Homo sapiens: one gene and its partners. The protein of the gene in region 3 purifies or fractionates together with the protein of the main gene of each other region. This does not show direct contact. Each region holds a gene or a part of one and is shown on either strand. Other genes may lie near its edges.

What was found.
Region 1: the proteins of SHISA6 (region 3) and KLHL18 purify together in Homo sapiens (affinity purification with mass spectrometry; one large-scale study listed by BioGRID and IntAct). This does not show direct contact.
Region 2: the proteins of SHISA6 (region 3) and PTER purify together in Homo sapiens (affinity purification with mass spectrometry; one large-scale study listed by BioGRID and IntAct). This does not show direct contact.

What each region holds. Positions count from the first base shown.
Region 1 is NC_000003.12:47,344,528-47,347,441, reverse strand, and holds the end of KLHL18 (kelch-like protein 18), read right to left. Parts: 3' UTR 626-2,914; downstream 1-625. UniProt on the Homo sapiens protein: Substrate-specific adapter of a BCR (BTB-CUL3-RBX1) E3 ubiquitin-protein ligase complex required for mitotic progression and cytokinesis.
Region 2 is NC_000010.11:16,439,856-16,443,582, reverse strand, and holds part of PTER (N-acetyltaurine hydrolase), read right to left. Parts: intron 1-3,727. UniProt on the Homo sapiens protein: N-acetyltaurine hydrolase that regulates feeding by catalyzing the hydrolysis of N-acetyltaurine into taurine and acetate. N-acetyltaurine has anorexigenic and anti-obesity effects that are dependent on GFRAL receptor and GDF15.
Region 3 is NC_000017.11:11,239,713-11,243,312, reverse strand, and holds the start of SHISA6 (protein shisa-6 isoform 1 precursor), read right to left. Parts: upstream 2,101-3,600; 5' UTR 1,891-2,100; coding exon 1,253-1,890; intron 1-1,252. UniProt on the Homo sapiens protein: Involved in maintenance of high-frequency synaptic transmission at hippocampal CA3-CA1 synapses.

The DNA of each region.
Region 1 (2,914 bases), on a different chromosome or scaffold from region 3:
AAACCACACTAACCACAGTGTAATCTTGGAAGAGCAGATCTGGAATGCGGCTGTATTTGGGGAAGTGAAACTGAAGATGGGAGTATAGTTCTCACACTGAAGAGCATGCAAATCACCAAGGAAACTTGCTCACGCCAGAATGCTGAGCTGCACCCCAGCCCTAGGGAACCTGTCTCTAGAGAGGGACTTAGGAACGGATCTGTGGTTTAAACATTTTCCAGTGACTTTTATGTGCACCAAAGTTAAAGCACCTCTCGCCTAGAGCATAAAAAAGGAGCTGGAGATGCTGATTCCAGGCAGTCAACAGGCAGCCACATTCCACTGGGAAACTCTGGAGTTTTAGGGCAGTGAATGGAGAAAAGGGGAAATCCGAGAGTAGGGGCGATCAGGACAGGCACCAATATGCAGTCCCAAAGTGCAAATGAAGTCTTTGCATATTTTTCACCAGAAGTGACTCTCATAAAATAAATCTCTCCAAAGACTACTTTTGCTGTACATCTGGCTTTTCCCTTATATTCACAGAAATATTCCCATTTTGTCCAATATATTTTTTTCAGTGAATCACAATTAAAAAACAAACATGTACTTCTAATATCTGAGAAATAAACCAAGAAAGGACAAGAGCTATTAGGAGTGTTCTCTTTATTTCTCTTTGGTTTCTTAACACAAAAGACATGCATTCTATAAATAAAAGGAACTAAGATTTTCTGGGAAACCATAAATTGGGAGGAATTCCCACAGTCACACCTCTGTGGTCAAGAGGATGGTCTTCAGCCCCCATCTGGCTGTAATCTCTGATGAAATCCAGAAGAGAAGGCCCGTGTGTTATCCAAGAAGGTGAAACACTCAAGGACAGTGAATGCCACAGTCCTCTGCTCAGAGCTGGGCTAGGCCCCAAGGCCCACTGAGTACAATGTCTACCCTATCTCCTTGTTACATCCTTTTTACAATATCCTTGGGTGATGCTTCTTTTCATGGGGCTATTGGAAAGGCTCCAACACCAAAGAGCCAGACCAGCCATTTACGAATAGCCATTCACCATCGGACTGAGGAACCTACTGGGAGAGTGTGAATATGTTGGTGTTTCCTGACTTGTGCTCAGAGCCCAGATCAAAACACTGGCTTGATCTTACTTTGAAACATCGACCTCAGGTGCAGCAGTGTAAATTCTACACCAGGAGGTGGGATTGGACTCAGGAAGTCCACTACAAGAGCAGCAGGCCATGGTAGAAAATGATCTGCCATACCCAGTGGCAAAATCTGGGCCAGTATCCTAAGGACCCACTCAGTAGCCCACAGACCGATTCTTAATACCTTCACAATCCAGGCTTGTTGGTGCTACTTCAAATTCACAAAAGAAAGGGGCTTATAATAAGACAAGCACTGATACACTCCTAACAGGAAATGCACACCCCACCCACCTTCCGAGTCTACCCCTACAGGCAAACCAGGAAGGAGGGAGAAATGCTGGAGCCCTACCACGAGCCCAGGTTAAACGACATCCGATATCAGATTGTTGAGACGTTAAAAATAAAAATATCATTTTCAAGTGCTTGTAGCAGAGGCCTAGCTCCTAAGTTGTAGGTAACAAAGGTACTTCCCTCTGAATACATGGCGATTGCACACACTGGTAAACCTGACGGTCCTGGGGTGGGGGAGACACCCCAGGCTCCACATTGTGCCTTTCTGAACAGGCTTCCAGGCCACCCCAGGCAGGCAGCAAAGGATAGGAAACCAAGCAGGTGGAGACTGGAGCCCTAAGACTCAGTCTTGGGTTACAGGAATTGAATCTTCTTTTAGTCTCTACTGGAAGAATTTTAGAAAACCAATTTTGGCAGCAGCAGTTGAAGGACAGCCCCACTGCCCAGTGCACTGGCAAGAGAAAATGTCCTCCTCTTTGAGTCCCGCTGTGCTACATTAGGTCCTATCCAGGGAGGAGGAAGCAATATGAAATCTTTCCAAAAGGTAAAGGTCATTTGCCAAGATTAGAGGAAGAAATATAAAATCTGTTCTTTGCAGCAGCAAGAGATTCTTTCGGCCTTTAGTTCTTTATGTCATAAAAGCCAGCTGTGCTTGAATGTAAAGGTCCACCTTGCTGGTCAGTCTGCCCAGGGCTGGAGGGAGGCCAGACTCTTGGGATTGGCGAGTGGATGGAGGAGCAGTGGAATGGCAGAGCAGACAAGGTTACCAGACCAAGCCCGCCCACAGCTGGTAGAAGGAAGCCCTGGTTAGGTTCTAGAGGTGCATATGGTCAACGTGCCCCAGAAGCATCACAATGAGGGAAATCATCCAAGAACGAGATTGATGGGCAAGTGAGAATCTGGCCAGACCTGCTGTTTCCTGCTGGTCAAAAAAGGAAGCAATGTTAGTGAGAGTGGGGAATCTGAATGAGCGCCATGGTGGCAGTAGGAGGTAATCACAGGGGCGCCTGGAGCCCCCAGCCACAGCTAGGAGCCCCCACCAAGAAGAGTGGCAGTAATTCAGCAGATAGCCTAACTCTCTACGCCTATGATTTTAAAAGTCCTCTGATGGTGGGTGAGAAGACAAACCCCATGAGCACCTTACTACAGGCCCAGTCAAGAGTGCACTGATTCCACACACACTGGGGCTCAGAGGGAACCCCCAGCTCAATGCGAGGCCTCAGGACCCTGGGATCCGAATGTGGGGTGGATACCGCCCTTCTCCAGTTAGACGATTTTCCATTTAAACATAGATTTGCCGTTAGTGTCTTTTATGCTTTTTTCTTCTTGCAAAATTTGTTCACATAAAAAAATTATTTTTCTTTCCAGTTTCTTTCAAGTGTTTCTTTGTTTAAATTTCCTTCAGTTTCTTTCAAGTATCTTTTTTTCCCTTCTGTTCTCCTGGACAGATCAAAAGGCCTCACTGAAATCCCAAAATTAGACATGGGGAAAAC
Region 2 (3,727 bases), on a different chromosome or scaffold from region 3:
CTCCTCCAAGTAATGTTAGTTAAAAAGAAGTTCCTGAACTGAGGAGATTCTCCAAAGATGTGTAGTCATCACTTGGAAGGTCAAATTTAACAATCAAAGAAAATAACTCCAAAAACAGTAGCTTCCAAACAGACCATTACTATTGCAGTGGAGCATTTTGGGCTCAGTTGTATCTCCCTGCAAAATTTGTCTGTTGCAGCCCGAACCCTCAGCACCTTAGGATGTGGTTGTATTTGCAGATAGTCTTTACAGAAGTAATTAAGTTAAAAGGGGGTTGTTAGGGTAGGTCTCAATCCAATAGGACTGGTGTCCCTATAAAAGATCAATACCCAGACATGCATAAAAGGGAAGACGGCCATCCACAAGCCAAAGAGAGAGACCTCAGAAGAGGCCAACACTGCTGACACCTTGATCTGGGACTTCCAGCTGCCAGAGCTGTGAGAAAATAAATGTCTGTTGTTAAAGCCACCCAGTTTGTGGTATTTTGTGATGGCAGCCCTAGGAAGACAAACATAGTGAGTAATCAAGGTCATCTAATCTAAGCTACAGAAATGGCCCTTAATTACACCTGGGGGCTCTACATTTTATTTCATCTTATTTTTATTGTTTTTGAGACAGAGTATCACTCTGTCACCCAGGCTGGTATGCAGTGGCACAATCTTGGCTCACTGCAACCTTCGCCTCCCGGGTTCAGGCGATTCTCCTGCCTCAACCTCCTGAGTAGCTGGACTTACAGACGTATGCCTGGCTAATTTTTGTATTTTTAGTAGAGATGGGGTTTCGCCATGTTGGCCAGGCTGGTATCGAACTCTTGACCTCAAGTGGTCCGCCTGCCTTGGTCTCCCAAAGTGCTAGGATTACAGGCATGAGACACCACGCCTGGCCTGCAGGCTCTGAATTTATAAAGTGAGAAGAAAATCTGTCAAAAGAGCTGGCCAGGCACATGCAAGTCAACCTAATTCTTATTTACTTATTTAATAGAGATGGGAGTCTCACTGTTGCCCAGGCTGGTCTTGAACTCCTGAGCTCAAGCAATCCTCCCGCCTTGGCCTCCCAAAGTGCCGGGATTACAGCATGAGCCACCGTGCATGGCCAACCTAACACTTTTAAACAAATTCTGATGGCAATCAGATGACAGCTCAGGGCATGGGCTCTGACCAAATAAATCTTTATTTCAATTTCTCAATTACATGGTCGGGCTTTATCTGTCCTCCAAACTGTTAGAGAGCAAGACTGATAACATCTAACCTTTCAGATATGCAAGAATGTAGGAGATGAGACATGTCGAATTGTCAAGGCATAAACATGAGATAACTTTGAGAATTTATGAAAATTTAAAAAATGTTTTTAAAAATCAACAAACAAATAATTTGGAAAATAGTAAGCCACATCAGGAAAGAAATTTTGTGGGTACACAGTAACACCAAGGATTTTGTGGTCGCAATGGGCTTTCAGTTACATAAAAGAGCACGAAATTAACAATATTTACCAATATTCTCTTCAAAGTGCTCTTCACACACCAAATAATTACCCAATTAAGCCACTGCAAGATAAGTTGCTATTACTCTGGATTTAGTAAAAAGAACTAATAATTACTCTTTTAACAGTTTCTGTGAAGAAAGAACTCAGTGTTTACCATACACAAGTGAGCACATCCCACCCGTTTAATAAGTAGGGAACAGGAAAAAAAAAAAGGCTGATTATGTAAGTGAATTCAGTGGAGGACACAGATGACTAAGAACCACAACCTGTGAAAACAGAGAATTTAATATGTAAAGCAGAGACCACCATTGGCAAAAGGCTATTTATGAATACTGCCAATACTTAGCATTGCCAGCTGACAATAGAAGATCTTCGGTCATGCCCCGAACAACATAATTCATCACACTAGTGCTTGGGCCAGTCACGTCCAAGCAATTTATCATCATCATATCACTCGCCTGACTATAATAAGGGGAGAACTTTGATTGTTAACCTCTAGGGAGACTGGATTTATAGCCAGTGTCCCCTAAGAATGCAGCACAGCTCTGTCCAAAGCACAATGCTCCCGGCTTGCCTTCTGTTTAACTCAGAATAAAAGAGTGAACACACTGCCCCTAGGACATTAACAGCAAAACCTAAGTCTGATACTCTTAGATCCGAAATCAGATAGCCAGGAAATCATATTTAAAATACTCTTTGAAGCTGCCTGAAAAAAAACGTATTAGTCAATGGTAAGTACGGATGATTCATTTCAAATGTCCTTCAGTGACAAAATAATTTCTGAAATGTATCCACTGATAACTGCATTTGGGAAGAATCATCTTTTCACAACTCACCCACGAACATTCCTCTGTATTGGAAAACTTGGAAGTGCACTGAAAATTGTTAAAAATATATAAATTGTGTTTTTCAAAGTAAAAATGAAAGCCTTGATTCTTATCCCTTCCAGGCATACAGCCTTTACCTATTTTACACTTTAACATGGTCTGCCCTTACAGAATGCAATTAAACATCTAAACGCCATTTTTGCCACTCTTGATTAAAATCACAAAGCAGACTGGAGCATGATGGGAACAGCACACCTGCCATCTCCCACACAGTAAAAGGAGCATGATTCATAGGACAAGCCTCTTTCAGGGCCCTCCCCACAGCTCCCAAGGTATCTGGTAAACCAGAGCCAGAAATCCCCGCATACATGCAGCTTATCTGATAATATTCATTACGCAGGCTTGACCAGGCTAGGCCACAGTAACACTCAAATCCCCGAATCTCAGGGTCTGACCACAACAAAAGTTTATTTCTAGCTCATCGAATACGTCTAACACAGGAAGGCAGGGGGCTCCGCTCACTGTCCTCTATGACCCAGGCTGAGACCACTGCCTCTATCTGGATGGTCACTGCGGCAGAGGGAAAGTGATTGTGACAAATCTTTCACTGGCTTTTAACACAGTTTTACCTGGAAGTGACACAGGTCACTCCACTTGCGTTTCGTTAGCCAAACAAGTCACGTGGACATACCTGCCTGGAAGGAGACAGGGAAATGGCTAACATTCACAGCTCTCACGCTGAGCAGGCACAGAGGTATTTGTACTCAGGTGGTTATTGTTTTGACAAAATAGGTACAACCACAGAGCCAGTTTATGCCAAATGGAACCAGATATTTTATTTTTCTTATTCTTTTTTCTTTTTCTTTTTTTTAAGAGATGATGTCTATGAATGAGAAGCCTTTTGTTATAAAAGTGTTATTAAGGGCCGGGCGTGGTGGCTCATGCCGGGAGGCTGAGGCAGGTGGATCACCTGAGGTCAGGAGTTCAAGAGCAGCCTGATCAACATGATGAAACCCCGTCTCTACCAAAAATACAAAAAAATTAGCTGGGCGTGGTGGTGCATGCCTATATTTCCAGCTAGTTGGGAGGCTGATGCAGGAGAATCACTTAAACCTGGGAGGCAGAGGTTGCAGTGAGTCAAGATAGGGCCACTGCACTCCAGTCTGGGCAATAGAGTGAGACCCTGCCACAAAAAAAAAAAAAAAATCTTGTTAGGAAAACCTGGACCACTGAAAATACACTAGAAACAACAGCTAAAGAAAACAGAACAAAGCCACATTTGATGTATGAAAATATATTCAACAACTACCTCAGTCAAGTTCATAGGGATACTGAGCAGACTCGAGCTTGATCAGAAATTCTCAATATTATTACTATATGGCTTACTAGGGCATTTAATAGATTTGAAGTTGGCTGGC
Region 3 (3,600 bases):
GAAAAAAAAAATCAGCTCTTTTAACATGCCTAGAAATTTCTATCTGCCTTTCTCTCTCTTCAGCAAGGCAGGGGTGATTAATGTGCACAGCAGCGAGGAAGGCGGTTTTCAGGTGGTAAGAATAACAAGCAGGACGCAGAGAAGAGCTCAAGGTGAATGGGTCAGTGTGGGGGCCTGCAGGACTGACTGACAAGCAGTGGTCTGGGGGGTGCTCATGGTGACTAGGGCAGTGCCCACACCATGCAACAGAAATGGAGGCATCTCCCGGGGCAGGGTTTGTTCCCTGAGAGGACTCTTGCACCATGTCCAGCCATCCATCAACATGAGGGGACAGGAAGCCGAGCTAACTCTGCATCCTCTGGGTGTGTCATTCCTAGAGTTCTAAGGGGAGGCTGGGTTTCTGTCATCCCCTTGGCTTTGACTTCCCCAAGGGCTCACTGGGGGGCAAGATGGTGCGTCGGGGCAGCATTCAGCGTGCAACCAGGGACTGCCATAGTTTGAGCTCTTGGCGTAAGTTTTGGTAGGAGGCAGCTCCCACTGTCTTTCGAACGTAAGCAGTGAAAGATGCCCCACCAGGTTTAACACAGGCGAGTACTGTTAACTCAGAGTTCTGCCTACAGGGTTTCAAAGAACGAGTCCTCTAGTCTCAGCAGGAAAGATAAACATCCCACTCCGCAGGATGCAATGAGGAGACACCATCTGTGCTTGGTCAACATGGAATGGAGAAATCTTTATCCCTACTTCCGGCAGGAGGCATCCTTTCTATAAAACCCCAATTCCTAATGTACGAGAACATCTCAGTTGACCCTAAGCCACTTGGTACCGCTTTCAGTAAGGTTCCAACATTGGTCAGTTTCCTATATTGAAGATGACACTCTGATTTGACTCAAAAAACTAAATGCCATTAAGAACCTACACCAAAGTGCCCTCATGCCAGGAAAGCAGAACCCTGGATCCTCATCCACGATTACAGAATTTGTAACATTCTTACACTTGGAACTTCATGCACTCAACCAATTCTTACTCTGCCTTGTAAATCCCCCTACCACCAAAGCATGCATTCCCGGTTCTGAAGAAATGGAGGAGGGGGCACAAGAAGACCCTGATTTATTGCATGCAAAAGGAGCGATGGTGGAAATGACTAGAGGGCCTGGGGAGGTGTGATGATGCCGAGAGTGAAGAGGACAGGGGAAGCAAGCTGAGAGGGTGAGGCCGCGGGGAGACCGGGGCGCGCGGCACGCGGCGCTCTCACCTGTGGATGTTCATCTCCCGTGGAGGGCGGTGGGCCTTGTCGTAGGAGACCTTGGCGAAGACGCCGGCCACGATGACGAAGGCGATCACCCCGCAGGTGATGTAGACGGTGAAGTTGGTCTTGTCCTTCTCCGGGTCGTACTTGTTCTCGGGCCCCGGCGACACCACCTTGGTGCTGGGCGTCTGTACCCACACCGGGCTCTGGTAGTTGGTGCACTGGCGCTGGTCCAGCTTCTCGTGGCGCTTCTTGCAGCAGAAGCGGTAGTAGCAGGTACCGCAGCAGTACAGGTAGCCGCTCTCGCTGTTGTTACACTCGAACTCCTTGTCGTACTGGCCGCTCACGTCGTAGTAGCCCCAGCACGTCTCGTAGGTGACGGCCGCGCTGGCCGCCGCCGCCACAGCCGCCGCGGGCTGCCCCCGCCGGCTTCCCGCCTCCGGGATTCCGGGCGCCCGGGCGGTGCCGTTCAGCTCGCGGCCGCCCCGTGCCAGGGCGCCCCCGGCCCTCCGGCCCCCGACGGCAGCGCCGCCTGCACTCAGGGTCCGGTTGGCGGCGCGGCCGCGGGCTCCGTGGACGCTGGGCAGCAGGTCCAGGGACTCCAGCGAGAGCAGCAGCAGCAGCAGGAGGCGCCGCAGCGCCATGGCGGGGCCGGGCGGGAGGGCGCGGGGAGGCTTCCGCGGCAGGCCGCTCCCCCGGCGGGCCGGGCTCGGAGGACCCGCCGCGCGGGCCGGGCTGGAGGCGCTGAGCGGTCAGCGGCTCCGGGGCGATGGCGCCATCGAGGCGCGGGCGGCAGTGGCGGCGGCGGCGCGCGGTGCGCACGGACCGGCCCGGCGCGGGCTGCTCGGGCTCTCAGGCTGCGCGCCGGCTCCGCGCTCCCCCTGCGGGCTCGGCGCGCCTCCTGGGCAGCCCCATCCCCCGCCGGCGGTGACTGCGGCCCCGCGCGCGGCTCGGCTCAGGCAGGACCCGAAGCGCGGCTCCGGGCGGCGGCGGCGGCGGCGGCGGCGTGGTCCCGTCCGGGCGGGTCCTGCGGGACAAGACGGGGAGCCGGTCACGGGGTGGGGCGACTGGCGCTCCGGGAGCAGGAGGAGAACCGCGGGCAGGCGGGCGGGGAGGGTGCGCGCAGCCCTCGAGGAGAGAGACTCGGAGCCGGGAGGGGCGTAGAGCCCGCTCCCAAGACGGGGTCCCGCGGCCCTGCGCGCCTGGAACCGAGAGCGCACGGGCCGCCCCTCCAGGCGCAGCTCGGCCGCCCGGGTCCCCCAGCCGCCCGGCCCCGCAGCGCGCTCCCGCCGCAGGCTGGCTCCCTGGGACGGAGCCGGTTGAGGCTGGGGTCCGGCGGCGAGCCGGGAGAGCGCGCGGCGGCTGGACCTCACTCACTCACCATGCCCGGCTGCGACTGCAGAGGCGGCGGCGGCGGCGGCGGCGGCGGCGGCGGGGCGAGGCGGGAACGCAGCTGCCGGAGCGAGCGAGCGGAGAGCCGCCGGCTCGCCGCCTGCACTAGTGCCGGAACGTGTGCGAGAGTGAGCGAGGGAGACACACGCACTCACACACCCGCACACACGGGAGCGCCGCGAGGGGAGGGGGGACAGGGGAGGGGAGGGCAGCCGCTCTCCGCCACCCACGTTTGCACGCCCGGGCGCTCAGGGTGCGGGGCGGGGGGGACTCCTTTTCGCTTCTTCCGGATCGCAGCAGTTGAAGCTCCGCGTCACGAAAGCTCCGGACAGCAGTTATTCGACACGGCGAACCCGGCGGGCGAAGAGGGGGCCGGGAGCAGGGCGGAACGTCCGCTCTGCAGCCGGCCCGCGGCAGGGACTGACCTCCCCTGCCATTGCCTTCTCTAGCCTTCGCGACCAGTCCCCACCCTACCGGAGCCCGGGGCAGCGCGCTGCCTGAGCGGGAGTTGGGGTTTCTGCAAGCCTTTGCCTCTCCCTAGTGGTGATACTCGCAGCCAGGAGAAGAGGTCAAACCCATTGCTACAGGTTCCCAAACTGAGTCCAGGGGTCAAGTGGCTTGTCTGAGGCTGTTGGGCGACCCGTGAGCTGAGCCTACACTCTCTTCCCCTTGGTCACTCTTTCCCCAACCCCGTACCCACTACGCATAAAGGCGCTAGACAGCCCCAGGACTGGATGGCAACTCTTTGCTATACTTTTTTTTTTCCCCGCGGAGCCTCGAGGCCATTAGAAAGCTATCTGAACCTCTGAGACTCAGCTTTGTAACCCCTGTGTTGAAATCTCTGTGCTGCAGCTCCTATGGGAGGTGAGGAGGATGGGGGTGCAGGGCGGGGGTGCTTTCCGGGGTAGTTGCGTGTCTGGGTCTGTGGAAAGGAGGCCTGAGTCTAACTTTCACAGCTACGA